Linked DNA regions of Homo sapiens. The protein of the gene in region 1 purifies or fractionates together with the protein of each later gene. This does not show direct contact. Each region holds a gene or a part of one and is shown in the gene's direction. Other genes may lie near its edges. The genes, in order: HPF1, LPAR1, FBXL16, CHRM4 and HPN.

Evidence for each region.
Region 2: the proteins of HPF1 (region 1) and LPAR1 purify together in Homo sapiens (co-immunoprecipitation; one large-scale study listed by IntAct). This does not show direct contact.
Region 3: the proteins of HPF1 (region 1) and FBXL16 purify together in Homo sapiens (co-immunoprecipitation; one large-scale study listed by IntAct). This does not show direct contact.
Region 4: the proteins of HPF1 (region 1) and CHRM4 purify together in Homo sapiens (co-immunoprecipitation; one large-scale study listed by IntAct). This does not show direct contact.
Region 5: the proteins of HPF1 (region 1) and HPN purify together in Homo sapiens (co-immunoprecipitation; one large-scale study listed by IntAct). This does not show direct contact.

The regions. Positions count from the first base shown.
Region 1 is NC_000004.12:169,742,505-169,749,011, reverse strand, and holds part of HPF1 (histone PARylation factor 1), read left to right. Parts: intron 1-169; coding exon 170-268; intron 269-6,507. UniProt on the Homo sapiens protein: Cofactor for serine ADP-ribosylation that confers serine specificity on PARP1 and PARP2 and plays a key role in DNA damage response.
Region 2 is NC_000009.12:110,939,899-110,946,405, reverse strand, and holds part of LPAR1 (lysophosphatidic acid receptor 1), read left to right. Parts: intron 1-4,237; coding exon 4,238-4,985; coding exon of another isoform or gene 4,986-5,065; exon of another isoform or gene 5,066-6,494; intron 6,495-6,507.
Region 3 is NC_000016.10:697,694-704,200, reverse strand, and holds part of FBXL16 (F-box/LRR-repeat protein 16), read left to right. Parts: intron 1-6,507. UniProt on the Homo sapiens protein: Substrate-recognition component of the SCF (SKP1-CUL1-F-box protein)-type E3 ubiquitin ligase complex.
Region 4 is NC_000011.10:46,384,978-46,390,728, reverse strand, and holds part of CHRM4 (muscarinic acetylcholine receptor M4), read left to right. Parts: intron 1-4,142; 5' UTR 4,143-4,171; coding exon 4,172-5,611; 3' UTR 5,612-5,751. UniProt on the Homo sapiens protein: The muscarinic acetylcholine receptor mediates various cellular responses, including inhibition of adenylate cyclase, breakdown of phosphoinositides and modulation of potassium channels through the action of G proteins.
Region 5 is NC_000019.10:35,061,172-35,067,678, forward strand, and holds the end of HPN (serine protease hepsin precursor), read left to right. Parts: intron 1-4,078; coding exon 4,079-4,174; intron 4,175-4,367; coding exon 4,368-4,510; intron 4,511-4,696; coding exon 4,697-4,861; coding exon of another isoform or gene 4,862-4,912; exon of another isoform or gene 4,913-5,071; intron 5,072-5,077; coding exon 5,078-5,116; 3' UTR 5,117-5,402; downstream 5,403-6,507. UniProt on the Homo sapiens protein: Serine protease that cleaves extracellular substrates, and contributes to the proteolytic processing of growth factors, such as HGF and MST1/HGFL. Plays a role in cell growth and maintenance of cell morphology.

The DNA.
Region 1 (6,507 bases):
AAATTTTTGTTTGATGTAATCGATAAATTCTGGTATGATTAAAAAAAAAAAAAGGCCTCCAAAAAGGAAAAAAAATAGGTGTAAATTGTTGTCTGTAGACCTGAAATCCCACTTGCCTGATAATATAAATTATGGGCAGCTAAATTTTTAATGTCTTTTGCTTACACAGGGATTCTCCTGATGAATTTCCTGTATATGTTGGTATAAATGAAGCAAAGAAAAATTGTATAATTGTTCCAAATGGAGATAATGTATTTGCTGCAGTCAAGTAAGAATATTTTAATTTATATTTGTTTACAATGTTTATACTACATTAGTCCATTACAAAGGGGGTTTGAGGGGCTGGGCACAGTGGCTTACACCTGTAATTCCAGCACTTTGGGAGGCCGAGGTGGGCAGATCGCTTAGGTCAGGGGTTCGAGACCAGCCTGGACAACATGGGTATACCCCATCTCTACTAAAAATACAAAAATTAGCTGGAGGCATGGTGGCACACACCTGTAATCCCAGCTACTCAGGAGGCTGAGTCAGGAGAATTGCTTGAACACAGGAGGCGGAGGTTGCAGTGAGCCGAGATTGCGCCACTGCATTGCAGCCTGAGTGACAGAGTGAGACTCTATCTCCAAAAAAAAAAACAAAGCGGATTTGAGACAAGCCCATAATTGTAGATTTCTAGAGATAATTTCCATGACTTTTGCAGGTAGTCTTATCTATACTGTTATTTTGTGCCTCTTCACCAAAAAAATACACCTCTTATGTAACTATTTTACTTAACGAAAATAATACTTGACCTCAGGTGTTCCATGGCAACATCAACAGTTTTGTTAGACATCTGATTTTAAACACCTGTTAAGAGTTTATTTCTTATGTATGGTTCAAACAGAAAGGCTTAATAAAGTAAAAAGAGGTGGTCATTATATCCTTGGAAGGGTTGAGGGAGCAGGCTGAGCTTCCAGGAATGACAGTTGTGTGGCTCACAGTGGATTTTGTCTCTGCCACCATCAGGGAGCTGGGAATTCGAGAACTGCTGCCACAGTGAGTGGCTCTAGGACCACATTATCTTTGGTATAATCTGGGCCAGGTAAATGGATGCCCTACTCTTTGCCTCTCAGCCCCCGTGAAGCTAAGAACCAGGTGCTGGGATCTCAGCTACAGCTGCTGCAGAACCATCAGATGCCTCTACAGCTGTGCTCATTGATGGAGATCGTGGAAGCACAGCCTCCATGTGGTATCTCTTCTGCCTCTGAGATTTCAAAGTATTGCAGCTGCTTGGAAGAAGATAGGTCCCATGTGGAGCCTGAGCTAAAGAGTAGTATGGGAAATGCAGTGAACTTTCATGGGGAAGGGGTTGGAATAGAGGTGAGTGAGCCAGTCTGTGCTATATCAGCCACAGACATGACTTGAAGCCATTTTATTTGTCAGCAGCTGTGTAGTTTGCATTGTAATGAAGAAAGCAAACTTTATCACTTCAAATACAAGTAGATTATCTTTTCTTTGACCTCTTTTAGTACTGTCTCTTTAAAGGGCTGTTGTTCCCTGTGATTTGATCATACAAATTTGCAGTAAAGTGAATTCAAACTAAATCACCCTACTACAACCACTAGACTATGCTACGTACATACTGGTGTATCTACAAGGCAGCTACATTGTAGATGTCCAAAAATGTTCTTTCTTTTCTAATACCTCTCAGTTTCCTATAAAATGTTACTTGGTATTTGTAATTTATAACTTCTTTTAAACTCTTTGGATTTATCATTCAATTTAAATTGGTGCCATCTTTATTAGAAACTCTTGTTGTTTTCTTGCTTATTGTCTGTCTCTTGCACTAGCATGTTAAGTTCCACGAGGGCAGAGTATCTGCCCCATACTAGATGCTCCATAAATATTAATTCTATAAATACCTTGGCATGTAAAAACACCTAATTTTTTCAGGCTGGGCAACATAGTGAGACTGTCTCTTTTTCGAAAAACAAGCCTAACTTTTCATTTGTGTTATTAGTCATGTTTTTTTTTTTTTTTAAAAAAAGATAACATAATAGTGGTCATGTAACATAACCCAAGACTCTTCTGGTATCTTTTTTTTTTTTTAAGCTAATTGGAGAACATAGACAATGAAAAAGAAAAAAAAAATGCATGGGTGATATTTATAACTTAGGTGAAGATCAGCAAGTGAGTATTTGAGGAACTACCTCCAATAATTTATCTCAAACAGGGGTAAAAAATTACTTGAGATATAACTATTTTAGTACTTTTAAAGTATTATAACGGTTTTAGTTTTTTAGGTACTACCTCCTTAAATCAGCTAACCAGAACACTTAATTTCTTTATATATTTTAAAATTTATTTTTATGGCAGACTGAATAAGGTCTTTCAAGGCATACCTTTGATCAACACATTTTTATCTTTAGTTATTATTAAATCTTGTGTCTGCAAGATTTAATAGTAACTAAAGAAATGCCAATTTAACCAGCAAAGATTTTTTTTAAAGGTTAAAGAATGGTAATAACCAATGATGGTTAGGGTATAAGAACCCTTACTGATGTGTTAATTGGTAAAACTTTTGTAGAAAGCAGTTTGAAAAATGTTTAATGTTAACATTTGAAAAATGTTAACTTAGAAAGCATATTCTAAGATTTCTTAATAGGTGACATTGTCAGGTACTATGTGAAGTACACATTTATACCCTTAAGTTAGCAATTTCACTTCTAGCTGTTTATTAAAGGGATTTTGGACAGGTACAGAAATATGTGTATTACAGATTGTTTATCAAATGAAAAATTGGCAACATATCCAGCAATAGGGAAGATTAGGTAAATATAAACTATCCATATACTATAATACTTTGGTATTGATTTGTTGAATTTGTTATGAAGTGGGCAAATAACAATAGTGTAGAATGATTCCATTTCATACTGTCTAATGCATATGGAAGTAAACATAATTCTTAAATAACTTTGAACAACAAAGGAATGATTTTTTTTTTCCTTCTGCCTTATTTATTTTCCTAAAATAACTGGGGTAAACAGTTTTGACCTTGGGTCAGGGACCCTTAAGGTCAAAACTATTTGTGATAATAAAATGTTATTTTTGCACCAATGGCACAAAGTAAATAGTGGATAATACTGTTGTCACCTTGGCAGGAATCAAGATAGTGCCACCAGGGTAGCAGCAGTCATTGCATTATTCACAGCAGTAACATGCAAATGTATTTAAAAATGTTTGTGATGGAGCCAGGCATGGTGGCTACTCGGGATGTTGAGGTGGGAGCATTGCTCGAGCCCAGGAGTTCAAGTTCATCCTAAACGACATAGCAAGACCCTGTGCCTGAAAAATGTCAGTGTTGGAGTATACATGTATTAGATGTCTACCATTGAGTTCATCTCTTTAACATTCTGTGATGAAATAGGAAATACATAGAAAGCATTTCTCATACTGAAGTACTGTGGTTTGTCTCAAGGGAAAAAAAAGCCCTTGTATGATTGAATTTTGAGATGAACTTTTCCCCACTTTTAGAAAGAGTGACTCATTGACTGTGTGCCTGTCAAGATTCCCTCTGGTTTTCTGGCTAGAAAGCTCACCCATTTCCAGTTTCTAAGAGTCAGTTCAGTGGCAGAGCCACCAGGGACAAGTAAGACTCTTGGGGGTGCTTTGACCCTGCCTACCTGGGAGCACACTTTTCCCTTCCCTGATGACCTGGGATGGTGGCCAGGCCGTGCCCTTGCTGTCGCTGGGCAGTGTCCTTTTGGAAAGGGAGCTGCCCCAGGGTTTAGTGCAGCTGCCAACCCTGTTAGGCCCGGCCTCTCGAGGCCTCTTCCGACTTCAAGGGTCACACACCCCCAAAGATCCTCTCACCCATGGTAGTTGCTGTGCATGGTTCTGTCTGTCCGTGCACCTATGCACACACACCACCCCACCACCCTACTCTGAAATTGGCGAGTGAGTTGAGAGCCAGCTCTGTGGGGTCATCCCGCAGCCATGGTTGTGCCTGTCCTTCATGGTGGTCTTTCAGGTTATCTTGGCAACATGTACATTGCTTTTCTTTTTTTTTCTTATTGTACAGTCAGTACTATAAAATTTCTCTTTGAGTTTTATACCTTTGTAGCATTTTAGATGACATTGTGTTTGTACTTTGTTGTGTAGAGTGGAAGAATTGTGTTGAATAAACCCAAGATTGGAATGCAAAAAAAAAAAAGAGTGACTCATTGACAAACTGGTTATTTGGGTCTAGCTACTGGCAGGAATTCTCTCAAATGAACCAAAGAAAACAACTGACTATATTTTTTGTCAGTGATAAAATTCAGGGTTTCAAATAAAAATTAGATTGAGAAACTTGTAATACCACTGTGAGCGCAATAGCTTTTTTTCATAATGTTATGTAATGAATTTGATATATAAGTTTCAACACTTACATCTATATAACTTAGTAAACCACTATTTCCAAAGGGCCATTGCATGATGCCATATAACATGCATGGGTACAAATTCATTTGCGTTGAAGACATTCTAATGGATTTAAAGTCACAGCACAAAATGTTCACGTTCATGGTTATGGCTTCAGTTGCACATCGCACCTTATCTTTAAGCATCACACAGTAAAGTGTTAGAGTAGGTTTCGGCAGAGACAAAAACTTACAGAGATAGTCATAATAATGTCATATGTATGGGAAGGCAGCTACCAAGTGCCTTCAATAGTGGCAGAGGTAAAAGAGGATATTTTATGTGGGCTTTGATGGATGCCTAAGAACTTACTAGAAAGAATGGGAAGAAGGATGTTTTAGGTAAGGGAGCAGTATGTGTGTGAAAGTGTGAAAATACGTGGCACAGGGTACTTGAATGGCTATATTGCCGTGCCAGAGTGTTGAGGAAGACTGTAAAGATCGATTGATTCACATAGGACTGACATGATCAAATCTGTATTTTATGGTTGATATAAAAATACCCTCTAGACATACAGCTGGTAATAATTGAAGGTAAGATTTAGTGTAACCGTGTGCTGTAATCAGAAGTTAGATTTTGATGGCTTGGGTTTCTGTGGCATTTTAATCTACCAGTTCTACTGGTAACTCTACGGGTTTAATCTATTAGCTCTCTCAACTTGGGTAAGTTGACTATCCTCTGTGCCTTTTTTTTTTCCTGATAAGTACAATGAAGCTAAGACTAGCACCCACTATAAATGTTCTAACTCCCTAACAGTGTTGCAGGGAATACTACAAACTCTCAGATGTTGGCAGTGAATAGAAGTGAGTTTCTTCCTAGGAGTTGTTACTCCCTCAGCCTTCTTCCTGGAAGTCTGGCACACTCTTGCCGCTCTTCATTTTACTCCTGACCTTTTATATTGATGGCAAAAATCTTAACCTGTTTATGACAAAATATAAAATTATTTCCATAAGTGGCATTAACATGATATATATTCACATACTTTTGAGAACTACTTTGGATTATGCTTTTGTATAAGCTTACAAAGTAGCTTTGCTTTCCTTTTGTGTTTTCTAAATTTTTCTTAACACAAACTTCAACATTAAAAAAAAAATCTATCGACCTTTAGTGTTATAATAGTGTCCTGTCTCTTTAAAAATGAAAAAAAAAAAAAAAAAAAAAAAAAGGCCAGGGGCAGTGGCTCACGCCTGTAATCCCAGCACTTTGGGAGGCCAAGGCAGATGGATCACCTGAGGTCAGGAGTTCGAGACCACCCTGACCAACATGAGGAAACCCTGTCTCCACTAAAAATACAAAAATTAGCTGGGCGTGGTGGCATGTACCTGTAATCCCAGCTACTCGGGAGGCTGAGTCAGGAGAATCATTTGAACCTGGGAGGTGGAGGTTGCAGTGAGCTGAGACCCTGCCACTGCACTCCAGCCTGGGCAACAAGAATGAAACAACATCTCGGAAAAAAAGACAGTTTTTTGTTTTTTTTTTTGAGGCAGTCTTAGGCTGAAGTGCAGTGGCACGATCTCGGCTGACTGGATGGCTGCAACCTCTACCTCCCGGGTTCAAGTGGTTCTCGTACCCCAGCCTCCCGGGTAGCTGTGAATACAGGTGCATGCCACCATGCCCAGCTAATTTTTGTATTTTTGGTGGAGACAGGGTTTCACTATGTTGGCCAGGTTGGTCTCCAACTCCTGACCTTGAGTGATCCGCCCACCTCGGCTTCCAAAAGTACTGGGGTTACAGGCATGGACCACCATGCCTGGTCCCTGAAAATATATACATATATTTTTTTGAGACGGAGTCTTGCTCTGTGGCCCAGGCTGGAGTGCAGTGGCGCGATCTCGGTTCACTGCAAGCTCTGCCTCCCGGGTTCACGCCGTTCTCCTGCCTCAGCCTCCCAAGTAGCTGGGACTACAGGCGCCCGCCATCACGCCCGGCTAATTTTTTGTATTTTTAGTAGAGACGGGGTTTCACCTTGTTAGCCAGGATGGTCTTGATCTCCTGACCTCATGATCCGCCCGCCTTGGCCTCCCAAAGTGCTGGGATTACAGGCGTGAGCCACTGCGCCTTGCCTGAAAA
Region 2 (6,507 bases), on another chromosome or scaffold:
AAATCTCATCAAGATACACCTACATTTTAGTTGCTTTTAATTAACTTTGTTTTGTAATCTACATAAATTTAAATCACTAATCTGAGACCTTTCTTTTTAGGCAATTACTTGTCTTCTGTTTGGAGCTGTGTTTTTCAGGTTCCTTCTAATCTTTCTTGGACCCCTGGTGCATCTTGAATTTTTTTCCTATATGTGCCTTCTTTTCTTTTGTTCTTGTCATCTCTGACTCTTTTCTGAGTGTTGGGTGAATTTCCTTAGTCTTCTACCTGCCATTTCAGTTTTCTGGAATTTTTATACTTCCTTTCATTACCTGCATTGCCATTTTTAATACAGAAATTGTTTTTCAGTTTGTTCTGATAGGCACAATAATGGCTTCCAAAGATATCCATTACTTAATCCTCAGAGCCTGTGGCTACTACCTTGCATAGAGAAAGGGACTTTTCAGATGTGTTTCAGTTAAAGATGTTGAGATGGGGAGTTTCTCCTAGATTTTTGGGTGGGCTCAGTGTAATCACAGGGGTCATCAAATGTGGTAGAGTGAGAAAGAAGATTGAGTGTCAGTCATGTGAGAAAGACCTGACTAGTCATTACTAGCTTTTGAAGATGACAGGTAGCCATGAGCCAAGAGATGTGGGCAGCCTCTAGAAGTTGGAAAAGACAAGGAAACGGATTCTCCCCTAGAGCTCCTGGAAAGAAACAGAGCTTTGCCTTCCCGGTGATTTTAGTCCTGTGAGACCTATTTTGGACTTCTGACCTCTAGGACTGTAAGAGAATAAATTTGTATATTTATGCTGCTAAATTTATAGCAATTTGTTAAAGTAGCAATAAAAAACTATTTTTGTGATGTTTTTACTGATTTCTTTTGTCTTCATAATGGCTTGTTCTATTTTCAATGTTACTATGTTAACAAAACACATTGAGGACACAAATCAGAGATGTCCCATCATTTAATCTTTTTCTCTTTCTATCTCTTCTTTTTTTCCCCTCCCATACATCTGCTTCAGTGGGAGGTGATTTCTTCTTTGGCGAGAGATAAGTGGCCACCTCCTTTGATTACATTTTTCCCCATTATGTTCCATAATTATTTTTCTGTCATTATAGCCCTGACTATCTTATTGGCCTATAGTCCAATTGCAGTTAAATTGGATTCTCTCTGAACCATGTAGGTTTTCTGCCTAAGTCTGTCGGCTCCTGAAGAAGTAGGAAAGCCCATTCACACTGCCCTTCTTACTGCCATTGGAGGTGCTTTCAGGGTCTCCACTGCTTATTCTTTTGACCTGTTGCTTTCTGCAGACAATAAGAGAGGAGGTTTAATTCCTCTATCAGTTCAGTCCTATTGTCATAAAACTAACTGAAATTCCTCTCACTTCTTCTCAGGCATATTATACCCTCCCAATTTTTAATTCCTGGTGTATTTTCTACTCTTTCAATATTTAGCTGCTAATTTTCATGAAATATAGCGTTCTTATCCAGAATCCTCTTAGTATAGGATTTTAAATCTGAACTAGACCTTATGTATAAGTTAGTCCAATTTCCTCATTTCACAGATGATAAAATTGAGTTTCGAAAATCATTTAAGTTTTATCATTAAATATGTATGGTTTTTATGGTATTACAGTCAATTGTTGAGAGAAAAGAAATGGCATAGGACAGGGCACTTTTCTCTACCTTTAGAGAAAATCTGTCAGTTTTACTCATCTTTGTACATTGTGGCTTAAAGAGATAATTTATACTTCTTAATTTTGCCATCCTTAACTTTATCGTTTTTCTCTGTGGGAAGGGCTAAGAAGCTGCATATATCTCTGCTTAACTTTGTTGCTACTTGGTGTTCAGAAGTTGGAATGCTGGGAAATAATATACGCTTGATATTTGGTTTAAACATTTCTTGATTCAGAGAAGGTAGATGGTTATAGAGACTAATGAAAAGAACAGACTTTTATATTTGTCTTGACAAAGTTTTAAATATCCTTTGCAGAAAGAAAATTTGTAAAGTTTAAACATTTTTGGAAATATCTTTAATTTATTAAGGAAATCAATATGTATTTAGCATGTAGTCCATAGAACAGTTGGATACTATACAACAATGAATAAGCAAGCTAGAATCTCTGCGTTTATAGGGTTTCATAGCCTAGTGTAGAGGGGATCAACAGATAATTAAGCAATTATGATACAGTGATTCCCTGGACCAGCAGCCTTGGCATTACTTGGGACCCTACCTCAGATCTACTGAATCAGAAGTTCTTGCGGGTTATGTCAGCAATCAGTGTTTTACAAACTCTCAGGTAATTCTGATACAAGAAACCACTGTTTTCACTGTTGAGAACCAGAGTTGAGAGAGAGAGCACAGCACATTAAATAGAGCTGAAGCTGAGAGTTTGGAGTCATTAATATCTTGAGTTGAGGCTGGAGAGGCAGGTAAGTAAGGTCTGATAAGATGATTGAAAAGTTTAGACTTTTATCTAACGTGCACTCATAAGCCCTTAAAACATGTCCAGTGGGGAAACAGCTTGATCAACTTTGTCTTTTTTTTTTTTTTTTTTGAGATGGAGTTGGGGTCTTGCTTTGTTACTCAGGCTGGAGTGCAGTGGCATGATCTTGGCTCACTGCAACCTCCACCTCCCGGGTTCAAGCGATTCTCCTGCTTCAGCCTCCTGAGTAGCTGGGATTACAGGTGCCCACCACCATGTCTGACTAATTTCTGTATTTTTAGTAGAGAGGGGGTTTCACCATGTTGGCCAGGCTGGTCTCGAACTTCTGACCTCAAGTGATCCACCCACTTTGGCCTCCCAAAGTGCTGGGATTACAGATGTGAGCCACTGTGCCCTGGACTGTGATCTCTTTAAGAAGCAGACAAGTAAAGAGATAAATAATTATACAATGTATTAAGTATAATATTTGAAGCATAATCTAAAAGCTATTAAAGTCTAGATAAGGAAAGAGACTTTAGATGCCTGGGTAAGTCAGAAGACTAACCACTTAAGTATTTCACGTTGTTCTTGGAAGTTTTAGTGTACAACCTATGGATATTCAGTAGAATATTTGATCAAAAATAGTGGTTAAAAGTGTCATATGTTTTGGGTAATTTATTAGATTCAAAGCAAAATAAAAATGAAAAAGTAGAATGTGAACCGTCTTCAAGATATATTTTTTAATTTTAGGGGTCCCAGGTAAACTTAGAGCTTCAAGAAGAATGACTTACTCTATGTGATGTATACTTTTCTAATTTCTAGTTTGTTACTTATTTTCTAATTTTGTTTAAATATATTATTATATATAATTACATATTATAATTATATATAATTATATATTATATATTATGATAGATAAATAAACATATATTATTCTGTTTTAAACTGTCTCAATCCTTTTTAAAGTGATTATTATAAATATTGTAAATAATAAGCAAATATATTCTTATCAATGATGTTGAAGAATAAGTAAACATGTTATAAAGCATTTTCACTCCACACTTTAAAAAATATGCTGCATCTAATCTAAGTATATTTTACTTGTAGAACATTGTCAAAGGGTCACCTACTCTTTGGAGGTTACGTTGGGTCCTCCAAAAAGAAAAAAAATTCTCAAATGTCATAGATTGGTTGACAAGTCCTATTCTGAACTTAAGGAGTTGTGGGGGTAGGCAGTGCTGACCACAGGAATGTTGAGCAGCAAATGCTGGCTTTGGGCAAAAAACCTTTGATGCACAGTGACTTGTTTGAAATGTTTGGAATGATGGTCCTTGTGGGAACCTGCATTACAAAATGTCTGTCCCACATGGAACATACTGTGTGAGAATAGAAATGCAGAATAATAGGGCAATGATACCCTATCTAGAAACCAACTGTGTTTACAGATTCCCTAAATAACAGGTCAAATAGATTTTACTATGGTAAATATTCCAATTGCAATGTTCTGCAAAATTTTTGTCTGTCTCATGTATTTTAAGCAAGATTTCTTGGCCATGTGGCTTTTGTAGTAGACTTCAATGACATAAAACCACTAAGCAGAGACCTTGTCATTTATTTAACTCCAACTGCCTTTAATCTTAAGGACAGTAATATTGTGAGAAACCTTGGAGTTTCAACATAATCACAAGATGGTATGCAGGATCAAATGTTCAAATTATTTGCTTTTGTTTTTCTGTTGCATGTACTATAAAAGTCTTGTGTTATCTATATAAGCTTTAAATTTGGACCTGTGCCTTCTTTTTCATCATCTTTTCTCCTTTTTCTTTTAGTTCACAGCCATGAATGAACCACAGTGCTTCTACAACGAGTCCATTGCCTTCTTTTATAACCGAAGTGGAAAGCATCTTGCCACAGAATGGAACACAGTCAGCAAGCTGGTGATGGGACTTGGAATCACTGTTTGTATCTTCATCATGTTGGCCAACCTATTGGTCATGGTGGCAATCTATGTCAACCGCCGCTTCCATTTTCCTATTTATTACCTAATGGCTAATCTGGCTGCTGCAGACTTCTTTGCTGGGTTGGCCTACTTCTATCTCATGTTCAACACAGGACCCAATACTCGGAGACTGACTGTTAGCACATGGCTCCTTCGTCAGGGCCTCATTGACACCAGCCTGACGGCATCTGTGGCCAACTTACTGGCTATTGCAATCGAGAGGCACATTACGGTTTTCCGCATGCAGCTCCACACACGGATGAGCAACCGGCGGGTAGTGGTGGTCATTGTGGTCATCTGGACTATGGCCATCGTTATGGGTGCTATACCCAGTGTGGGCTGGAACTGTATCTGTGATATTGAAAATTGTTCCAACATGGCACCCCTCTACAGTGACTCTTACTTAGTCTTCTGGGCCATTTTCAACTTGGTGACCTTTGTGGTAATGGTGGTTCTCTATGCTCACATCTTTGGCTATGTTCGCCAGAGGACTATGAGAATGTCTCGGCATAGTTCTGGACCCCGGCGGAATCGGGATACCATGATGAGTCTTCTGAAGACTGTGGTCATTGTGCTTGGTAAGTTCTGTCTTGACTGTAACTTACTTTATAGATTCTCAGTGACTAACATAAACCACATTATTTTATGTCAGAGGTAACCAACAGTATGAATATTCACCAGGTAATTCACCAGGAATTACAAGGGGATGAGGCACCTTTATATTAAATGTCAGCTTATGAGTCTTCCTAAAATTATAGAATTAGCGTTAGGGAAACATGGGTCCCAGTGGTGCAGTATAAATGATGATGATGTAAAAGATGTCATTGAAGAGTTTGGCTATCTAATATTGAAAATACCAGAATTACCAGTCAAACTCATTCATTTTTCTTACAGCCTAAATTGTGAAACTTTTGCATTGTGGTTTCTGTATTACATATTTTCAGACAGAAAGTGCTTTTGTAGAATATGAATATGCTTCCATATATAGTTATTTTTGTTAGTCTATTCTGTAATTGTTGCTACATTATAGGTAGTATATCAAGGTTTTATATAGATTTACTGAACAAAACAGATTGGAATTAATGATATTCTCTGACAGTCATCTTCATGAAAACTTCCTTATTTTCTATTAATTTTCTATTTGTAGTAGTGGAGGTTAATTCATATTTCAAGGTGAAGAGCAAGATTTGTAGACTCAAATACCTTCTGCTTTTAAATAAGCATTGTTTTTCTTGGATGAAAAATTCATAGTAGTGATCAAGAAGAATATATTCACTTATGTGTGTAGAAGGTAGTTAAAGAGCACCTACTATGTTCTACGCTCTGTGCTGGCTCCATGAAAAGGACAGATACAGACATTTCCTTTGGAGCTGAGAGTAGAGTGAGAGTTTTTTAAAATAATTACCCAATGGAATTATACATTCTCCATAGACTATATTCAGGTTAACGTTTGATCACATTAAAAAATCTTTTTTGAAAACCTTTTATCATTTCATCTTTCCCTATGGAAATTGAAAAAAAACATTTTATCACCTCCTCTTTCCCCACAGAAATTCAATGGAAAGTTCCTATAATTCTCTGTGCTCCAATTTATATAGCATTTTTGGGTGAATGTAACATGGGATTATGTGGCTCCTCTGAAACTCTGGGAATTACCTTAATTTTAGCCACTGGAAGGAGACAGGGTCCTGCTGATCATTATATAAAGTAGTATTCAGATTGATGCATAGGTCTCGTCTGTTTTGGTTAGGATGACTGCATCATGGACATCATTTTCAGCTATACTCATTGTTGACCCTCTTGTAGACCTGTGAGAATAGCAACTAAGCCTTGGGATCACTGACACACCTAAAACCCTGCCTAACTAACTGAAACACTGAGGACCCCATCACCTCAGATATGAGATTGTCTTATTGCATCCAATGAAGATTAGTAGAACTACAAAAATGGTTTCTCTGTATGTTTATTAACAGGACCTTAAGCACACCTGTGCCACAAGGCCACATTTTCCATGATGTGGATAAAACACATCTTTGTTTACCATGGATGCTATTTTTGTATGAAATAAAACATGAGACATTAAATAACATGAGACTTTTT
Region 3 (6,507 bases), on another chromosome or scaffold:
CAGGAAGCCTTGTGTTGCTGAGAGTTAGGGATCTCCCACCCAGGTGGCACTGTTCAGCCACCCGAAGACCCCATCTCCTTGCATGTGGGCACCCACTGCTGTGCCTCCCATGACTGGATTGGCAGTGAAGGGAGCTCTGTGGGTGAGCAGGTGACTGAGCCTTCCCCACCAGTGGTGCAGGAGGAGTCAACGGCCAAACTGGCTGCAATGTGTGGGTTCAGGCCTCATTCCTTCACTGGGCAGGAAAGAGGGGTGATGGTTAGTGGCAGCTGCCTGGAGCAGTAGGCACTAGGGGCCCAGGCCTCGCCTCTGAGGGTGCTCATGCTCTTCCGAGCAGGGGCTGAGATGAGGCCTGGATCCCAGCACCCACTCCCCAGGGTGTCCAGCTTTCAAGGCTGAGCTGCCCTGGGCTTGACCATGGGCCCTCAGTCTGCTGGGGCAGCAACACGGGTTTCTCTTGAGGCCACGTGCCTGCTGCGCCATGGTGCCCCTCCTCAGAGCCCCTGGTGCACCCCCAGAAGCATCTCAAACTGGGGGCGGGAGAGGAGCTCTGCCGCTGTGCCACGTGCCAAGTGGCAGGGACGCGGGTGTGCCTGCGTCACGGGGCTGCCACGGAATGTGTCAGTCTGCACCCTGTCCCCAATCCCCAGCCACCCCAGCTGTCAGCCAGGCTCTGGGGCTGCCACTGCAGATGGAGCCCGATGTGCATTTCTCTGGCCACCAGGGCCCTGCCCAGCTCTAAGGCCCTCTGCAGGCAGGGCTCAATGGTCCCTGAGGTTCTATGAGGGCTGAGTGGTTGGTTAGGCTGTGCCCCAGTCTGGTGCTGACAGAGATGGGGGCACCAGAGATGGGGGAAGAGACCTTCAAACTGGGGGCGCTGAGGGGTGAGGAGGTTTCCCAGGCATGTGTCCAAAAGGATGTCCCAGGGGTGGGCACGCGGTGTGCAGCCTCTGCAAGGAATGCAGCGCCGTGGCAGGGACCCTGCAGGATGAGGGCAGTACTTGGAGAGACCACTAGCCCAGGGCCCAGCAGGAAGGCATCGAGACCCCATGAGGCAGAACAGGGCAGAGCGAGGACCCTGTGAGGTACACCTGGCAGGACCCAGGTAGAGGGAATCAGCCAGCCCCGGGGCTTTTGGAGCCAATCCTAGCTCTATGTAACTTCTGGAAAATCCGTCTGCAAGCTCTGCTTCCCCACTCCTAGTTAGGCAGTGTGTGAAGGAAGGACTCTGGCCGGTCAGAGGAGGGGTGCGTGTGGTGCCAGGGAGAGCGGGGCAGGAGGACCCCCTTCCCTCTCTTGGCTCAGGCCAGATGGTGGAGGACGGGCAGCCACTTCCTCAGCCCTGCAGCTCCTGAAGAGAGAGCCAGCTGAAAAGGAGATGGGCCCTCCTCATCCGAAGGCTCTGTGTATTGCAAGGCCCACCCCAGCCCTGGGGTCTTGGGAGCCCTCTCAGTGACTCAGGTACCAACCTAGTCCCAACCCCAGAGGCCACTCTCCCCGCGGACACTGGCCATGGCACGATCCGGGTTAATTTCCCGAGCTGTGCCTTCCCCGCTGACCGGCCTCTTCCTAAATTTGACCAATCCTCCATCAGCCCTCCGGGGGCCTTGGCAGCTGCACCCCTTTCTGCGTGACTGAGCTAGCGGAGCCACATTCCGCATTCATTCATTCGTTCCCTAATTCATTCATTCCGCGAACATGCAGAGGCCATGCACGTTGGTGCTGTCTGTCCTCAAGAGTCCTCAGGCCAGGAGGAGAGACACCAGGTGGACAGTGATGATAACCCATGTGATTGCAAGACCCTGGAGACGCTTTCTCAAGAGCTGGGGGTCCCGGAGCAGGAGGCAGGGGCGACCTCGCACCAGGAACTGAGGGATGGAGGAGAAGAGCTTGCAGGGCTAAGGCAGGGAAACCCTGCCAGGCAAGCAGGGGGAACGGCGTGTGCCCAGGCAGAGGAGCAGGGGAGGAGGAATGGCATGGCTGGGCTGTGGCATCAGGGCTGGGAAGGGGCCGGAGCTGAGGTCTCCGGGCTCAGTGACTTGATTCGCAGAAGAGGCAGCTCCTGCGGGGCCCCCACATGGCCGTCTGGGAATGGTCAGCCTGGATGCTGTACATGTACATGTGGGGACCCCCAGGAGCACCCAGGCCCCACCGTGCTCCCTAGGCTCACTCTGGCCACACGCTTCACACTGCGTCCCCTGGGGAGGACACAGAGGCCACGGCCACCTCTCCCCAGCAGCTCCCAGGCCAGGCTCAGGCTGCTGAGGACAAGACAGCTGAGGTGGGGCCACCTCTCTCTCTTTCCCCTGGGGTGAGCCCCGGAGCCTTGACAGGATTCCACTTCAAGCTGAGCCAGCACCACAGGGGCTGAGGCTGAGGATGGTGCAGGCATGGCCACCTTTTTAACAAGTCTCTTCCCCGTATTAGCACCCGGGCTGCTTGTCCCTAAAGGGAGAGGCAGTCCCTAGCAGCCCACGCAGGTCGTCCGAGCCCCTCTGGGTGGAACGAGGGCTCTCACAGTCGCCAAGCAGGAAAGGGGGCTCTGTGAGCCATGGGAACCGGCTCCTTGGTGACCGTCTGGCTGGGTGGGTGGGGCCGGGCCCAGGGCCAAGCAGAGGGGCCCTTGTGTGAGCCCCCAGGGACTTCTCGCTGAACGGGCAGAGAGACCCCAGTCTCCAGTTGAGCTCAGCTTTCTCCCGCAGCGCCCATGCCTGGGCCAAAGTGTGTGGCTGTTTGCATTTTTGAGCTACGGGGTGGGGGATATTCGGGCTGAGTCAGTCAAGCCGGGAGTGTGAGGAGCAGCGGGGGCCGGCAGGAACGTGGACGCGAGATTGGGGAGCAGTGGGGCTGCCTGTGCGGGGATGCAGCTCCCACCAAGCACACGGGTCGAGGGCTGACCACAGGCAGAGCAGCGCCTTCTGGCAGCGCTGCGGGTGTGGATGAGGGAAGCCAGGCCCCGGACCCATACCCAGACGGCCGCTCCTCAGCCTGTCCCCTCCCTCCTGTGGGCTCTCAAAGTGCGGCTTGGTTTCTCCATCTCGACCCTGAGGCCTGGAGGTGGGGACGGGACTGTGGGCGCCGGCAAACGTGAGCTCCCGAGCGGGGCGGGAAAGGAGCCCCGCGAATGCCTCCCCCAGCCCCGGCGCTCCACGTGCAGGCCCATGACTGGGAGCGTTTTCAACCTAAATCGGCACTGCGCCGGGATTATTCCTCCCCTGGCGCCGCCCCCGCCGCCTCCTCCGGATCCTTCCCGGCTTCTCCCCCACTCTTCGCCCCCGGGGCCCCTCCCTGCTGAGCGGGGGCTGCCGGGATTTGGGATTGCGGGGCTGCCCCGACCCCGCAGCCGTCCGCGGTGGAAGCCAGCCCGGGCCTGGCCCTGAGCGCGCGGCTGGGGCGGCCGCTGTCCATGGTGCTGGCGCGGGTGGCGCGCCGGCCGGCGGGGTCTGCGGAGGCCCAGGCGTCCCTGGCGGGGAAGGCGGCGCTTCCGGGTCTGGGGAGCGAGGGTCCCCGCTCTAGGGGCACGGAGGATATTTAGACTGGGGCGCCCGTGGGCCTGGTGCTGCCGCCTCGGGCGCCGGCATCCTGCGATATCCCCTCTCCCCGGCTCTGGGAGGGAACCGAGGCAGCCCCGCGCCAGGCCTCCCCGGACACCTGGGGCAAATTCGCTCCTCAGAGCCTCGTGTTCCTTCCCCAAACCTGAGGTAGCGACCCCTCCACCCCTAAGGGCGGCCGTGAGGTCGAATCATGTGCCGACCCCAGCCGGCCCTTGCAAACGTTGTGATGTCGGCCTCCGGAGGCCGCGCCTTCTGATCATGGGCACATGATGGGGGTCACCGGCTGTGGGTGCCTCCTCTGTGGAGGGCCCGGCCTCACCTTCCAGGACCCGAATGATACTCTGGGGAGGGGGAGATGGTACAGAGGGTGGAGCTGGGGCTCCTGCCATTAGGGCAGGAAGGACTTTAAACCCAAAGCTGGGTTCTCAGCCACGAGGGCCACGTGTTCTGGCGAGACCCCTGGTCCCGGCTCCGGTCTACACCCCCTCCCCAGATGTGGACCGGTGGCAAGGCTGGCCCTGTCTGGGGCTTGGAAGCCAGTGTGGGGACCTGCTGCTGGGAAGAGCGGGGCAGGACCTCCCACTGCCTCCCTGCCTCCCTGCCTCCCCTCCCCCCTGACCAGATTATGGGGAATGGGCTGCGGGCCTTGGGGTTGCAGTGCCGTCCGAGACCCCGCCACTCTCTGTGGTGGAGCAGGCCAGGCCCTGTAGCCCCAGAAGGGACACTCAGCCAAAAAGATGTGAGCCATCCTCTTCCTGAGAGTCTGCATATTGCAGGGCCCACCCCAAGCGTTGGAATCTTCGTGGGAGACTCTCAGACACCCCCTTGGTGGCTCCAAGAGACCTTCCAGTGAGGCTGTGGCAGGAGGGGGCAGGGTGGGCTGGGAGAGGCTTTGGCCCCTCCTCTGAGATTTTGGGGCAGGAAGGCAGGACCTGCATGAGGCTCCAGGCTTAGTCCTGGAGTCACCTAAGACCGGGGAAGATGCATCTTGCTTTGCCCTGGAGTGTGGCCGTGGGGCTCAGACATCACTCTCCCAGACCTTGCTATGAGCCACGCACTGAGCTCGTTCACTTTGCAATGCCCCAAGGGAGCAGGTACCGTCACCTCCCCAGGCTTCAAGGTGAGGAAATTGAGGCTCAGAGAAGGGAAGTGGCTTGCCAAGACCACAGAGCCAGGGTGGGGCCCATTTCAAGTCCAGGGCGTGTGACCCCAGGGGCTCTACCTCCTCCCCGGATGTCGGGGTGGGGGCGGCAGGAGATCCGAACTGTGGAGCAGATGGTGGCACAGTGAGGGTCCCACCTCTGCTTCTTTCCGTGGCTGTGCCCAGTGCCCCCTGCCACCCACTTACAGACTGGAGGCCTGAGGAGGGTGCCCGGGACTGCTCCCACTCCACCCTGTGCGTGGATGTCGCTGGCCTGAAGATAACCTCCGCATGGCCTTCCTCAGCCAGCTCTGCCCGAACTTTGGCTTCACCACTTATCTGGCCATGACCTCGGGCAGGCAGTTTGCCCAGCCTTGGCCTCAGTTTCCTCATCTGTGCAGTGGGTACAGCTATCACAGCATCGTTCTCATTGGGCAGAAGATTAAAGCGACAGCTTGTGTCCAGGGCTAACCATGCTGGCACCACAGCACACCCTGGGAAGATGCCCGCCCTTTCTTTGCATGGATTCTTTTTTCTTTTTCTTTTCTTTTTTTCTTTTTCTTTCTTTCTTTCTTTTTTTTTTTTTTTTTTTGAGACAAAGTCTCACTCTGTTCCCCAGGCTGGAGTACAGTGGTGTGATCTCGGCTCGCTGCAACCTCCGCCTCCTGGATTCAAGTGATTCTCCTGCCTCAGCCTCCCAAGTAGCTGGGATTACAGGAGCCTGCCACCAAGCCCGGCTAATTTTTGTATTTTTAGTAGAGAAGGGGTTTCACCATGTTGGCCAGGTGGTCTCAAACCCCTGACCTTGTAATCCACCCACCTCAGCCTCCCAAAGTGCTAGAATTACAGGCATCAGCCACTGCACCCAGCCCCTTGGGTAGATTCTGAGCCAGGGAAGCTCCTGTGCATGTGGAGGGTGGCTGCAGAGTCAGCACCAGAGCCCCTCCTGAGCGCTGTGCAGTCACCCTGCAGGGGAGGGGCCAGAGGCCACCCCAGACCCTTCCCTTCAGTTCCCCTGGCCTGCCCAGAGGGGTGGGCCTGGTGGGTACCTACAGTGGACGGCACAGCAGAGAGGTCAAGAGAGCAGTCCTGGCCTCACCAGGTCCACCTCCATTTTCTTCTCTGTAAAATGGCCATCATGGTACCTAAGTGCTAAAAAGTGTCGGCGTTTCTTCGCCTCACTGGGCAAACAAAAAGGTTTCCGGTCAGGCACGGTGGCTCATTCCCATAATCCCAGGACTTTGGGAGGCTGAGGCGGGTGGATCACTTGAGGTCAGGAGTTTGAGACCAGCCTGACCAACATGGAGAAACCCCATCTCTACTAAAAATACAAAATTAGCCGGGTGTGGTGGTGGGCGCCCGAATTCCCAGCTACACGGGAGGCTGAGGCAGGAGAATCACTTGAACCTACGAGGCAGAGAGGTTGCGGGGAGCCAAGATCCTGTCTCTGCACTCCAGTCTGCGCTCCAGGCAACAAGAGTGAAACTGTTTCTTTTTTTTTTTTTTGAGACAGAGTCTTGCTCAGTTGCCCAGGCTGGAGTGCAGTGGCGCAATCTCGGCTCACTGCAAGCTCCGCCTCCCGGGTTCACGTCATTCTCCTGCTGCAGCCTCCCAAGTAGCTGGTACTACAGGCGCCTGCCACCATGCCCAGCTAATTTTTTGTATTTTTAGAAGAGATGGTGTTTCACTGTGTTAGCCAGGATGGTCTCGATCTCCTGACCTCATGATCCACCCGCCTCGGCCTCCCAAAGTGCTGGGATTACAGGCATGAGCCACCGCGCCCGGCCGGAACTCTGTTTCAAAAAGAAAAAA
Region 4 (5,751 bases), on another chromosome or scaffold:
CGGGGCACCCGAGAGCCAGGGCTCCTTCGACCACGGCGGAGACATGGAGGAGCCTCCAGATGGCCTAGGAAAACACGGCCCTCGAGGCCCGCCCGACCCTAGCGTGAGAAACTGGGTCCCCACTTTGGTCACAGGGGCTAGACAGTGCCTCTGGGGTAGGGTGCAGGGTGAGGAGAGAAGGAGGACAAGAGTCTTGCACTCGCCTGACCCGAGCTCTGTCCGGGCCTCCGCCTTGTGGGTGCACTGCGGATGCCCTCTCGCCGCGAGAATGGGCGGCTTTTGGCAATAACGCCTCTTAGGGGAGTTATTAGAGCTGAGCGTGCCTGGTGTCCCTCAAGGCCAGGTTGGGCGACTCTCGCAGAGGCCCCTCGACAGATGTCAGTCAGAGGCTAGGACTCTGCCACATCTTTAAGGACTTGGACACCTCTGGGCACCGGGCTAAGACGGCGTCCCAAAGTTAGGTGGCCCGTCGCAGGCAGCCCCTAGTAGTCTGGCCTCCTCGCCCGCACAACCCTTCACCCACAGGCCAGGTGCAATCCCGATGCAGGCTCCTGGCCCGACCCTCTACGCGCTCAGGCGGACAGCTAAGGTCTGGCTGAGTCTCCGGCAGGGGCGTTTGGAATGTGACCGGTCACCCACTCTCGGCCCTGCATTTGCTTGTGCATGCAAGTCCACAGGTGTAGAGGCACCCGAACCGTGTGCATCCTCCCGGCCACAGCACCCTAGGCACGCACACGCATGCACATGCACGTGTGCACACGGCGCGGCATGCTCACGCGCTCTCACGGGCGGACTGGTATCCAGGCGTGGCCGTGCGCACACACACGCACATGCATACAGCTACTAGCGTCTACTCGCGCTCCCCCGTAGGCACACACAAACAGAACTCGCACTCGCGCTCCCGCCCACACGTTCCTCGCAGGGTGCCGGGTGGAATCCGGGCTCCCTCAACTTTCCCACCCGAGAACCCCGCGCGGAGCCGAGGGCAGCTCTGGGGCGGCGTCCGACGGGGCCTGGCGAGGGGACCCCGCGTCACTTCCCCGGGAGGCTGTGCCTGAGGGCTCCTCTGGGTTCGCAGTCGCATTGGAGTTGGGGGCGGTGGCCAACGGCGGCCGCACGGTCTAGGTCCGGAGCGGGCACCAGGGACCGACATTGCCATCTAGCGGTGCGCACAGCCCCGGCGGCGGCGGCTCGCTCCCCAGATGCCAGGCGTATCTGGATTCCAGGGAAGGCGCCAGAGGGGGTCGGAATGTCTGCGGGTGACCCCGAGGTGTCCAAAACGACGACAGCTGGGGCGGGGCGGAGTCGGGGAGACCCTGAGCCTCGCCCTGTCAGCACCTGGCAGCTCCCTCACGCGGGCCAAGAGCAGGACTTAATCACCGGCCATCCAGTGGTCCCGGCTCAGCCCAGCCGCCAGGATCTGGGAGAAGACAAGACATCGCTTGTCTTCTGGGAAAGCTAAGTCGAGAAGCCAGCAGGAATGTGAGGGGACCCTACCCAAGCCTCACCTGGACAGTCCCTCAGTTGTGTGGTTTTCGGGTCGAGGGGAGCAGAGGCAGGAGGTCAACTCTGAGCAGTAGCACCTTGGACTTTAAGAAGGAGCTTCCCGGGTTCTTCTGCCCCCACCCGTACTTCCTAACCTGGTGACTTTGGGCCAGTTGATTAACATTATCCTCATCTATAAGAGGATATTTACATCTGTAAGATGAGGACACTAATAATACCTGCCTTTTCAGGCTGTTGTAAGGATTAAACCAGATAATCTATATTAAAAGCTCAGAGGGGTTCCTGACACGCAGTTAACACTCAATAAACAAGAGCTATTATGTTTTCACATTCTGCACTTCTAGCCCCGTTTGTTATCATCCTGCTGCCCTGTATCCTGCCTTGGGAGGCTGAAGTGAGTTTCCTTGGGGCTGGCTGACTGATTACTCCTGCCTGCCCTGTCCCCTCCTCCACGTGAGTGATTGGGGGAGGGCAGCCTCCTGGTGCTGGAGGGGACAGCTCAGAGAGTGACACCTGAGCTTCTATTTCAGAGGCTCTCAGAGCCAAATGGGGTTGTCAGGGACCCCAAGAGAGGGCAGTATGTGGTCTTTGCCCTTGACTCGTTGTGTGACCTTGGGGGTGACAACACTTGCTCTCAGCCTCTCCTCCTACGAACCAAGGATTTAGAACAGGAGAACTTGAACTATCAGGCTAGGAGGCTGGGTCTGTATCTGCGACGGTGGAATAGAAGGGCTGGGGTCAGACTTGGGGCAGTTACCCTGGCCCTTGGCCCCAGCCTGCAGTACATTTTTGTGTTTATGTATAGAGATCAAGTTTAGGTGCCAATCCCTATAGCTGCTGGGGAGGATGTCCCAGGACAGGATCCTCTCTATTCTGCAAATGAGAAAGAGGTGCAGGAAGGGGCAGTGGATCGTCTCAGGCCACAGAGCCAGAGCCCAGGCTGCGGGTTAGTGCTCCTTCCTCCACAGCCGGCTGCCGCGCCCTCTCTTCCTCTCACACACAGACGCACAGAACTGCGTATCCGACCATGCCTGCTGGGCTGGCGTGGCTGTGATGGGCCCGCGTGCGTCTGTGGAGCGGTGTGTGTGTTGGCGGGTGTGAAGGAGGCTGGGCTGAGCGGCTGCCCTGGCACTCAGAGCTGGCGTGGGCCTCCCTCACATGGAGGGAAGAGGAAGAGGGGGAGGAGAGCTAAGAGGAGCCTGGTGGGAGGGAGGGCAGGCTCAGGGAAGGGCCTGTGGTGGGGACTCCAGCTAGGGCGCCGCCCGGTGTGCGGAGTGGACTGTGGAGGGGAGAGGCGGCCCTGGCAGCCCTTCTCTTCCCTCTGGGACAATTCTTTCACCTCACGGGTCCCCAGTTGGGCCTCAGGGTTCTCTGACAACCTAGTGACCCCTGCACTGCCTCCCTCCCAGCTGCATGCCCTGTGGCTGGAGCTGAGGACTCCTTGAAGGGGATGTGACAGTTGCAGGTACCTCCTGAAGCCCCTTCTGCAGGGACTCTCCTCCTCTCTGGGGTGCCCAGCTCCATGCACCGCCTCTGGTCCCCTGCAAAGCCTTCTGGCTCCTGGAGCTCTTTGGCCTCCTTCAGCCAGAGCTCTTAAGTTACGGGACTGCCTTCCTCTCACCACCTCACCCCGCACTTAATCCCACCAGCAACATAGTGCAAGAAGCCGTGAAACCTTGGTCAGGCTTTTAACAGCTCCGTGCCTCAGTTTCCCCATCTGTAAGTAGTAGAGAAAAAATGGTATCTACCTCATAGGTTTGTTATGAGGATGAAATGAGTTAACACTATAAAAAATGTTGCCAGGCATGATGGCGCCTGGAGTCCCAGCTACTCAGGAGGTGAGAGGATGGCTTGAGCTCAAGAGTTCTAGACCAGCCTGGACAACATACCAAGACCCTGTCTCTACAAATAAATAGATAAATAAATAGACACTTTTTTTAAGTGTCAAAAGTGCTTGGCACTTAGTAGACCATCAGTGTTAGGTGCTCATACATACCCCGATTATTGCCTTTGTCCCAGTGTCTTCTACAGGGGTTGGAGAGCAGGTGTTAAGAAATGACCGAATGGGTAAATGGATGAACAGAACACCTCCCTCCAGAGCCCACATGCTCGTGGGCCTCTGGGACCACTCTCCTCCTCCTCTTGCTTCCCTGAGCTCCCCCAGCACTGGCCTCTGTCCAGGCCTTGCGCTGCCTCCAGGCCTTTGCTGTGGCTACTGCCCCTGGCAGGGCCACTCTCCACAGCTCCTCCTGTGGCTGGCTCCTCATCACCCAGATGACCTGGTGGGTGAGGCCACCTAGCAAGGAGTCATGCCTGTCCTGCCTTCTGACTCACTCTCTCATCACCCTGCCTTTTTTTTCTTTTGTGGCTCACGTGTTTGCATGTCTCCCCCCATGAGGCAGGGGGCCATGTGTGTCTTATTCACTTCTGTAGCCACAGCACCCTGAGCAATGCTTGCCACATAGTAGGTGCTCAATTAATGTTGAATGAATGGGCAAATGCGGGATGGCGGGACAGAGTTCTCTCAAGGCATTCTGCCAGAGAATGTCCCTCTGTCACCTTGAATCCAGTGTACCTCCAGATGACTCCCCCATTCCCTCCTGTAGTTCATGCTTTTCTCTCCCCTTCCTCCCCAGACACGGCCTACCCACCCCTGGCAACCAACATGGCCAACTTCACACCTGTCAATGGCAGCTCGGGCAATCAGTCCGTGCGCCTGGTCACGTCATCATCCCACAATCGCTATGAGACGGTGGAAATGGTCTTCATTGCCACAGTGACAGGCTCCCTGAGCCTGGTGACTGTCGTGGGCAACATCCTGGTGATGCTGTCCATCAAGGTCAACAGGCAGCTGCAGACAGTCAACAACTACTTCCTCTTCAGCCTGGCGTGTGCTGATCTCATCATAGGCGCCTTCTCCATGAACCTCTACACCGTGTACATCATCAAGGGCTACTGGCCCCTGGGCGCCGTGGTCTGCGACCTGTGGCTGGCCCTGGACTACGTGGTGAGCAACGCCTCCGTCATGAACCTTCTCATCATCAGCTTTGACCGCTACTTCTGCGTCACCAAGCCTCTCACCTACCCTGCCCGGCGCACCACCAAGATGGCAGGCCTCATGATTGCTGCTGCCTGGGTACTGTCCTTCGTGCTCTGGGCGCCTGCCATCTTGTTCTGGCAGTTTGTGGTGGGTAAGCGGACGGTGCCCGACAACCAGTGCTTCATCCAGTTCCTGTCCAACCCAGCAGTGACCTTTGGCACAGCCATTGCTGCCTTCTACCTGCCTGTGGTCATCATGACGGTGCTGTACATCCACATCTCCCTGGCCAGTCGCAGCCGAGTCCACAAGCACCGGCCCGAGGGCCCGAAGGAGAAGAAAGCCAAGACGCTGGCCTTCCTCAAGAGCCCACTAATGAAGCAGAGCGTCAAGAAGCCCCCGCCCGGGGAGGCCGCCCGGGAGGAGCTGCGCAATGGCAAGCTGGAGGAGGCCCCCCCGCCAGCGCTGCCACCGCCACCGCGCCCCGTGGCTGATAAGGACACTTCCAATGAGTCCAGCTCAGGCAGTGCCACCCAGAACACCAAGGAACGCCCAGCCACAGAGCTGTCCACCACAGAGGCCACCACGCCCGCCATGCCCGCCCCTCCCCTGCAGCCGCGGGCCCTCAACCCAGCCTCCAGATGGTCCAAGATCCAGATTGTGACGAAGCAGACAGGCAATGAGTGTGTGACAGCCATTGAGATTGTGCCTGCCACGCCGGCTGGCATGCGCCCTGCGGCCAACGTGGCCCGCAAGTTCGCCAGCATCGCTCGCAACCAGGTGCGCAAGAAGCGGCAGATGGCGGCCCGGGAGCGCAAAGTGACACGAACGATCTTTGCCATTCTGCTAGCCTTCATCCTCACCTGGACGCCCTACAACGTCATGGTCCTGGTGAACACCTTCTGCCAGAGCTGCATCCCTGACACGGTGTGGTCCATTGGCTACTGGCTCTGCTACGTCAACAGCACCATCAACCCTGCCTGCTATGCTCTGTGCAACGCCACCTTTAAAAAGACCTTCCGGCACCTGCTGCTGTGCCAGTATCGGAACATCGGCACTGCCAGGTAGGCAGGCAGGAGTGCCCTAGGAGGTGCTGGTGTTGCGTGCGTGTGCTGGGGGGACCACACGGCTCACTTGCTGTGGGGAAGAGTTGCAGGCACCATTCTGCGTTCACGTTTGCTGAGGAGGAAGTTCAGAAGAGGCTCTGT
Region 5 (6,507 bases), on another chromosome or scaffold:
AGACTGTTTCATCGGACAAATGCATAAAGAAAATGTGGTATATTGACCGGGCGCGGTGGCTCATGCCTGTAATCCCAGCACTTTGGGAGGCCGAGGTGGGTGGATCACGAGGTCAGGAGTTTGAAACCAGCCTGGCCAACATGGTGAAACTCCATCTCTACTAAAAATACAAAAATTAGCCTGGCCAACATGGTGAAACTCCATCTCTACTAAAAATACAAAAATTAGCCTGGCCAACATGGTGAAACTCCATCTCTACTAAAAATACAAAAATTAGCCTGGCGTGGTGGCACACGCCTGTAATCCCAGCTACTCGGGAGGATGAGGCAGGAGAATCTCTTGAACCCGGGAGGTGGAGATTGCAGTGAGCCGAGATCACACCACTGCACTCCAGCCTGGCTGACAGAGCAAGGCTCTGTCATCTTGAAAATAAATAAATAAATAACAAAAAAAATGTGGTATATCCACACAACGGGAGAATATTGGACCATAGAAATGAATGAGGTACTGATTCATGCTACCACAAGGATGAAACTTGAGAACAGTGCTGAATGAGACAAGCCAGCCGCAAAGGCCACATACTGTAGGATGCCACTTGTATGAAATGTACAAGGCTGGGCACGGTGGCTCACGCCTGTAATCCTGGCACTCTGGGCAGCTGAGATGGGAGGATTGTTTGTGCTCAGGAGTTTAAGACCAGCCTGGGCAACATAGCAAGACCCCATCACTTAAAAAAATGAGCTAGGTGTGGTGACGGATACCTGTAGTTCCAGTTACTCAGGAGGCTAAGGCAGGAGGATCACTTGAGCCCAGGAGTTTGAGGCTGCAGTGGGCTAGGATTGTGCCACTGTACTCCAGCCTGGGTAACAGAGCAAAACCTTGTCTGTTAAAAAAAGAAGAAAGAAAGAAAGAGAAAGAAAAGAAAGGAAGGAAGGAAGAAAAGAAGAAAAGAAAAGGAAAGAAAGAAAAGAAATGTCTAGAATAGGCACATCGGTAGAGATAGAAAGTTGATTGATGGTGGCAGGGTGGGAGGTGGGGATGGGAGATTGGGAGGTGACTGGTGAAGGACACAAGGTTTCTTGTCTGGGTGATGAAAGATTCTAAGTCGATCATGATCATGGTTGCACTTGTCTGTGACTACACAAAAAGCCAGTGACTTGTGCCTTTAAAAGGAATTGTCTAATATGTGAATAGTAGTTCAATCAAGCTGTTACCAAAAAACTAATAAAATGAAAAGAAAATGTGTTAAAAATGAATGAATCAGACTTAGAAAGTAAGTTAGGAGTCATTCCCTCTGCAATTCCCTGGAGTATTCCCTTGGTCTTACTGAGACTCACTTAGGTGCCAACATGTCCTTAACACCTCTCCAACACATACATCTTCCTTTTGGATTAAAAGCAGGCCCTGGGCTTCAGATTTCAGCAGGCTGCAGTGTAATAATAATAATAAAAATAGGCTGGGCATGTAATCCCAGGCCAAGGTGGGGGTATCGCTTGAGCTCAGGAGTTCAAGACTCGCCTGGGCAACATGGCAAAACCCCATCTCTACAAACAAAAAAAATTAGCTGGCTGTGGTGGTGCGCGCCTGTGGTCCCAGCTACTTGGGAGGCGGAGGCAGGAGAATCACCTGATCACCCAGGAGATCAAGGCTGCAGTGAGCCATGATCACACCACTGCATTCCAGCCTGGTTGATAGAGCGAGACCCTGTCTCAGAACATAATAATAATAACGGTGATAATGATGATCATGAAGTAGTAATAGCGAGTAGTATTCGAGTTCATGATTGAGTATTCGAGTATAGCGAGTTCATGATCATGAAGTAGTAAAAGGGAATAAGGGAGTACATGATGAGTGTACACAACACAGTAAAATAATCTGGTAAACATAGCAGTGTGCCAGGCACCATTCCAAATATGTCCTGTGTATGGACTCACTTAGTTCTCACAGCAACCCCAGCACACCCTGGTAAGGAGGGTTCTCTTAAGATCCTGTTTTCCACCCAGGAAAAGGTCCCAACCCAAAGAAGGCAAACAATGCCCCAAATTCGTACAGCTGGTGAACGGCAAAGATTTGTGCCCAGGTGGACTGGCACTGGAATCTGTGCTTGTGGCCCCCACGCTGTGGTGACGGAGAATCCAGGGCCATGTTGGGGTTGGCATTATGTTTATTTTTATGTTTATTTTATTTTTCATGATCTGTGGTACTGGTTTCCCATTGAAGGGAGTGATACATGCTTTTCTTTAAAACCAAACCCTGTCCTGACATGGTGGCTCACGCCTGTAATCCCAGCACTTTGAGAGGCTGAAGCGGGCAGATCACTTGAGGTCGGGAGTTTGAGACCAGCCTGGCCAACGTGGTGAAACCCCATCTCTACTAAAAACACAAAAATTAGCCAGGTGTAGTGGCAGGCACCTGTAGTCTCAGCTACTCTGGAGGCAGAGGCAGGAGAATCACTTGAACCCAGGAGGTGGAGGTTGCAGTGAGCCAAGATCGTTGCCACACCCTTCTCCTTAGTGAAAAGAGTGAGAGAGTTAATATTGAAGTAAGGACGCATCTTTGAGGACAGGTGGACAGGTGGAAGCGGCTGGGATTTCAGACACAGGGCTGAGGGGGTCACAGCATGGGCTTTGGGGTCAGATTCAGATATTTGCCAACTGTGTGATCTTGGACACATGGCTTCACCTCACCGTGCCTCAGTTTCCCTTATCTGTAAAATGACTTCCTAGGGTTATTGAGACAATTAAAAGGGTTAATATGAGTAAAGAGCTTAGAGAACTGCCAGCACATAGTGAACACTGGTAAATGTTAGCAATTGCTACTATTGTTGTTTAATACTTTTACTAGTTATATGAACACTTGCTGTTTGCCTGGCATGCAACTCAATGACTCACCAATTTCTCACTACAACTTCTGGGGATAAGTGATTATTATTTCCATTCTACATCTGAGAGCTCTAAGACTCAGGCAGGTGATGTCATCAGCAGGCAGCAGGCAGCAGGCAACAGGCAGGGCTGCCAGGAACCCTTGCATAGGTTGTGCACTGCACAAGGACACCACATCTCAGGGTTACCACTCTCTCTGTAGACCTGTGTATTTATTATTATGATTTTCTGCTAGGTGGAAGTCAAATGTCTCAAGATAGGAGTGTCTCTCTCTCTCTCTCTCTCTTTCTTCTCTCTCTCTCTTTCTTTTTTTGAGACAGAGTCTTGCTCTGTCACCCAGGCTGGAGTGCAATGGCGCAATCTCGGCTCCCTGCAAACTCTGCCTCCTAGGTTCAAGCGATTCTCCTGCCTCAGCCTCCTGAGTAGCTGGGATTACAGGCACCTGCCATCTGTAATCCCAGTGCTTTGGGAGGCTGAGGCAGGAGGATTGCTTGAGCCCAGGAGGTCGAGGCTGCAGTGAGCCATGTTCCTGCCACTGCACTCTGGCCTGGGTGACACTGCAGGCTTAGAAATGAAAACAAGCTGTGTTAAAACATACATGTTATGAAACTTTGGACACGTGACTTGGCCTCATTTTCCCCCTCTCTAAAATGGGATAATATAGACCCTACCTCTCTGGGCTGATGAAACATTAAAGAAAATGGTGCAGGAAGGCGCCTAGTATGCGATGAGCTCTTGGTACGTGGCGACTTCCGTTGTGGCTTTTTTGTTTGTTTGTTTGTTTTTGAGACAGAGTCTTGCTCTGTCGCCCAGGCTGGAGTGCAATGACATGATCTCGGCTCACTGCAACCTCCACCTCCTGGGTTCAAGTGATTCTTCTGCCTCAGTCTCCCGAGTAGCTGGGATTACAGGTGCGTGCCACCATGCCCGGCTAATTTTTGTATTTTTAGTAGAGATGAGGTTTCGCCACGTTGGCCAGGCTGGTCTCAAACTCCTGACATCAAGTGATCCTCCTGCCTCGGCCTCCCAAAGTGCTGGGATTACAGGCATGAGCCACTGTGCCCAGCCTATTGTGGTTTTTTTTTTAAAGAACAGAGAGGGCAGGGTGTGTTAGGGGCCATGGTAGCAGCTGGACAGAGGTTTGTACCAGGTGGGGCAGGCCAGCGGGGGCTGGACCAGCATTGTCTCTCTCACAGAATACATCCAGCCTGTGTGCCTCCCAGCTGCCGGCCAGGCCCTGGTGGATGGCAAGATCTGTACCGTGACGGGCTGGGGCAACACGCAGTACTATGGTGAGTCCTGTCCTCTGCCTCTGATGCCACCGTTTGGGAGACTCTGAACTAGGCTGGGGATGGGCAGTCTGGCTGGTTGGATGAGTCTTGACCATGAGGAGTAGGGACGCTGAGGGGAATGGGGTGGGCACCAGGAGGGAAGGGGGGTGTGTACACCCCCCAGCTCTGGCCAGCCTTGCCTGCACACCCCCAGGCCAACAGGCCGGGGTACTCCAGGAGGCTCGAGTCCCCATAATCAGCAATGATGTCTGCAATGGCGCTGACTTCTATGGAAACCAGATCAAGCCCAAGATGTTCTGTGCTGGCTACCCCGAGGGTGGCATTGATGCCTGCCAGGTGAGGGACTCTGTAGGGGCAGCCCCCTGGTCGCTGCCACCCCAGGGATGGAGATGCAGGGGAGTGGGTGGTCAGGCTCCCCATCTAAAAGCCTGAGGGCTCTGGGGCCACAGCCCATGTCATCCCGGGGTGGGCCTCCTGTCCAACCACTTTGGCCTTCAGCCAGACCTCCCTCTCCCCTCCCAGGGCGACAGCGGTGGTCCCTTTGTGTGTGAGGACAGCATCTCTCGGACGCCACGTTGGCGGCTGTGTGGCATTGTGAGTTGGGGCACTGGCTGTGCCCTGGCCCAGAAGCCAGGCGTCTACACCAAAGTCAGTGACTTCCGGGAGTGGATCTTCCAGGCCATAAAGGTGAAAGTTGGGTCCAGATGGGAGCCAGGGTGGGGACGTTTGGGTGTCTAATGGGGGAAGGGAGGCAGAGATTTGTTTTAGGAAACCTACGCTCAGGCCTAGAAGAGGGCCCCCCTTGGGAACAGATGGACTTTGAAGGGTTCCTGGGGAAGGGAAGCCAGTGGTGGGACGTGGAAGCCTCTCAGACCTCGGGAGCCCCCAGCTGTCTTTCCCCAGACTCACTCCGAAGCCAGCGGCATGGTGACCCAGCTCTGACCGGTGGCTTCTCGCTGCGCAGCCTCCAGGGCCCGAGGTGATCCCGGTGGTGGGATCCACGCTGGGCCTAGGATGGGACGTTTTTCTTCTTGGGCCCGGTCCACAGGTCCAAGGACACCCTCCCTCCAGGGTCCTCTCTTCCACAGTGGCGGGCCCACTCAGCCCCGAGACCACCCAACCTCACCCTCCTGACCCCCATGTAAATATTGTTCTGCTGTCTGGGACTCCTGTCTAGGTGCCCCTGATGACGGGATGCTCTTTAAATAATAAAGATGGTTTTGATTAATGTGGCCTCCGAGCTTACAAATGTACACAGCAATGAGGACATTTTGTCAGGAAGGAAGAGAAGAATTAGGACCTGGCGCAAATCAGACAGAGAGTGTGGGTCCCTCAGTTCCCACTGATTTGAGATTTAAGATTTTAATTGGTTCACTTAACTGGAATTTTCCTGGAGCAAATTGGCTTCAGGTACAGCTGGATCCAGCTGCTCTCTCAAATCTGCCTTAGGCTGTGTTAGCTTCATTTCCAAGCAGCCTCTCCTACAACCAGAGAGAGAGATGTCCCCTTCCACACAAACTCTTTCCCAATCACTGCAGAAAAAGTCCCAGGCAACAACAACAAAAACCCAGGCCCAGCTCCCATTGTACAGATTTGGGTCACGTGCTCATCCCTTGGCAAATCACTGTGCACCGGATGTACGCGGTAGGGGTGGAGCGGGGTGGAGTGGGAGGCGCTAGGCCTTCAAGAATCGTGTGACCTGAGTGTGGGAGTCCCAAAGGAAATAGGGTGCTATTTCCAGAAGTGGAAATAGATGCTCAGTGAGCAAAAAAGACATCTACCTTGAACCAACACGGAAAACGGGGCCCTGTAAGGTGGAGATAGGGAGACGCTGGGAACACAGCCTGAGACCCTCCCCCAACCCCTTTCTCCATCTGGGCAGCTTCTGGGGAGGAACCCCCTTCTGTAGAGCCTCTGCAGAGCCTCATGCAGCCCCGATGGCCACCAGGGGGCACTGCTGCCCCAACATTGTGACACATTAAGGGGTTTCCTGCCTGGAGTCAGCCGCATGTTGCTGAAAACCTGCTGTTCTGCTGAAGAAAGGCTCAGCGGGGGAGCCTGTTCACCATGACTTTAAATAATAACAATTATCATACATCACCCATGGACCACAGCTTCCAAGCAATTTCCTTTTTTTTTTTTTTTTTTTTTTTGAGACAGAGTTTCACTCTTGTCTCCCAGGTTGGAGTGCAGTGGCGTGATCTTAGCTCACTGCAACCTCCGCCTCCTGGGTTCAAGCGATTCTCCTGCCTCGGCCTCCCGAGTAGCTGGGATTACAGGCGTGCCCCACCACGCCCAGCTGATTTTTGTATTTTTAGTAGAGACGGGCTGTC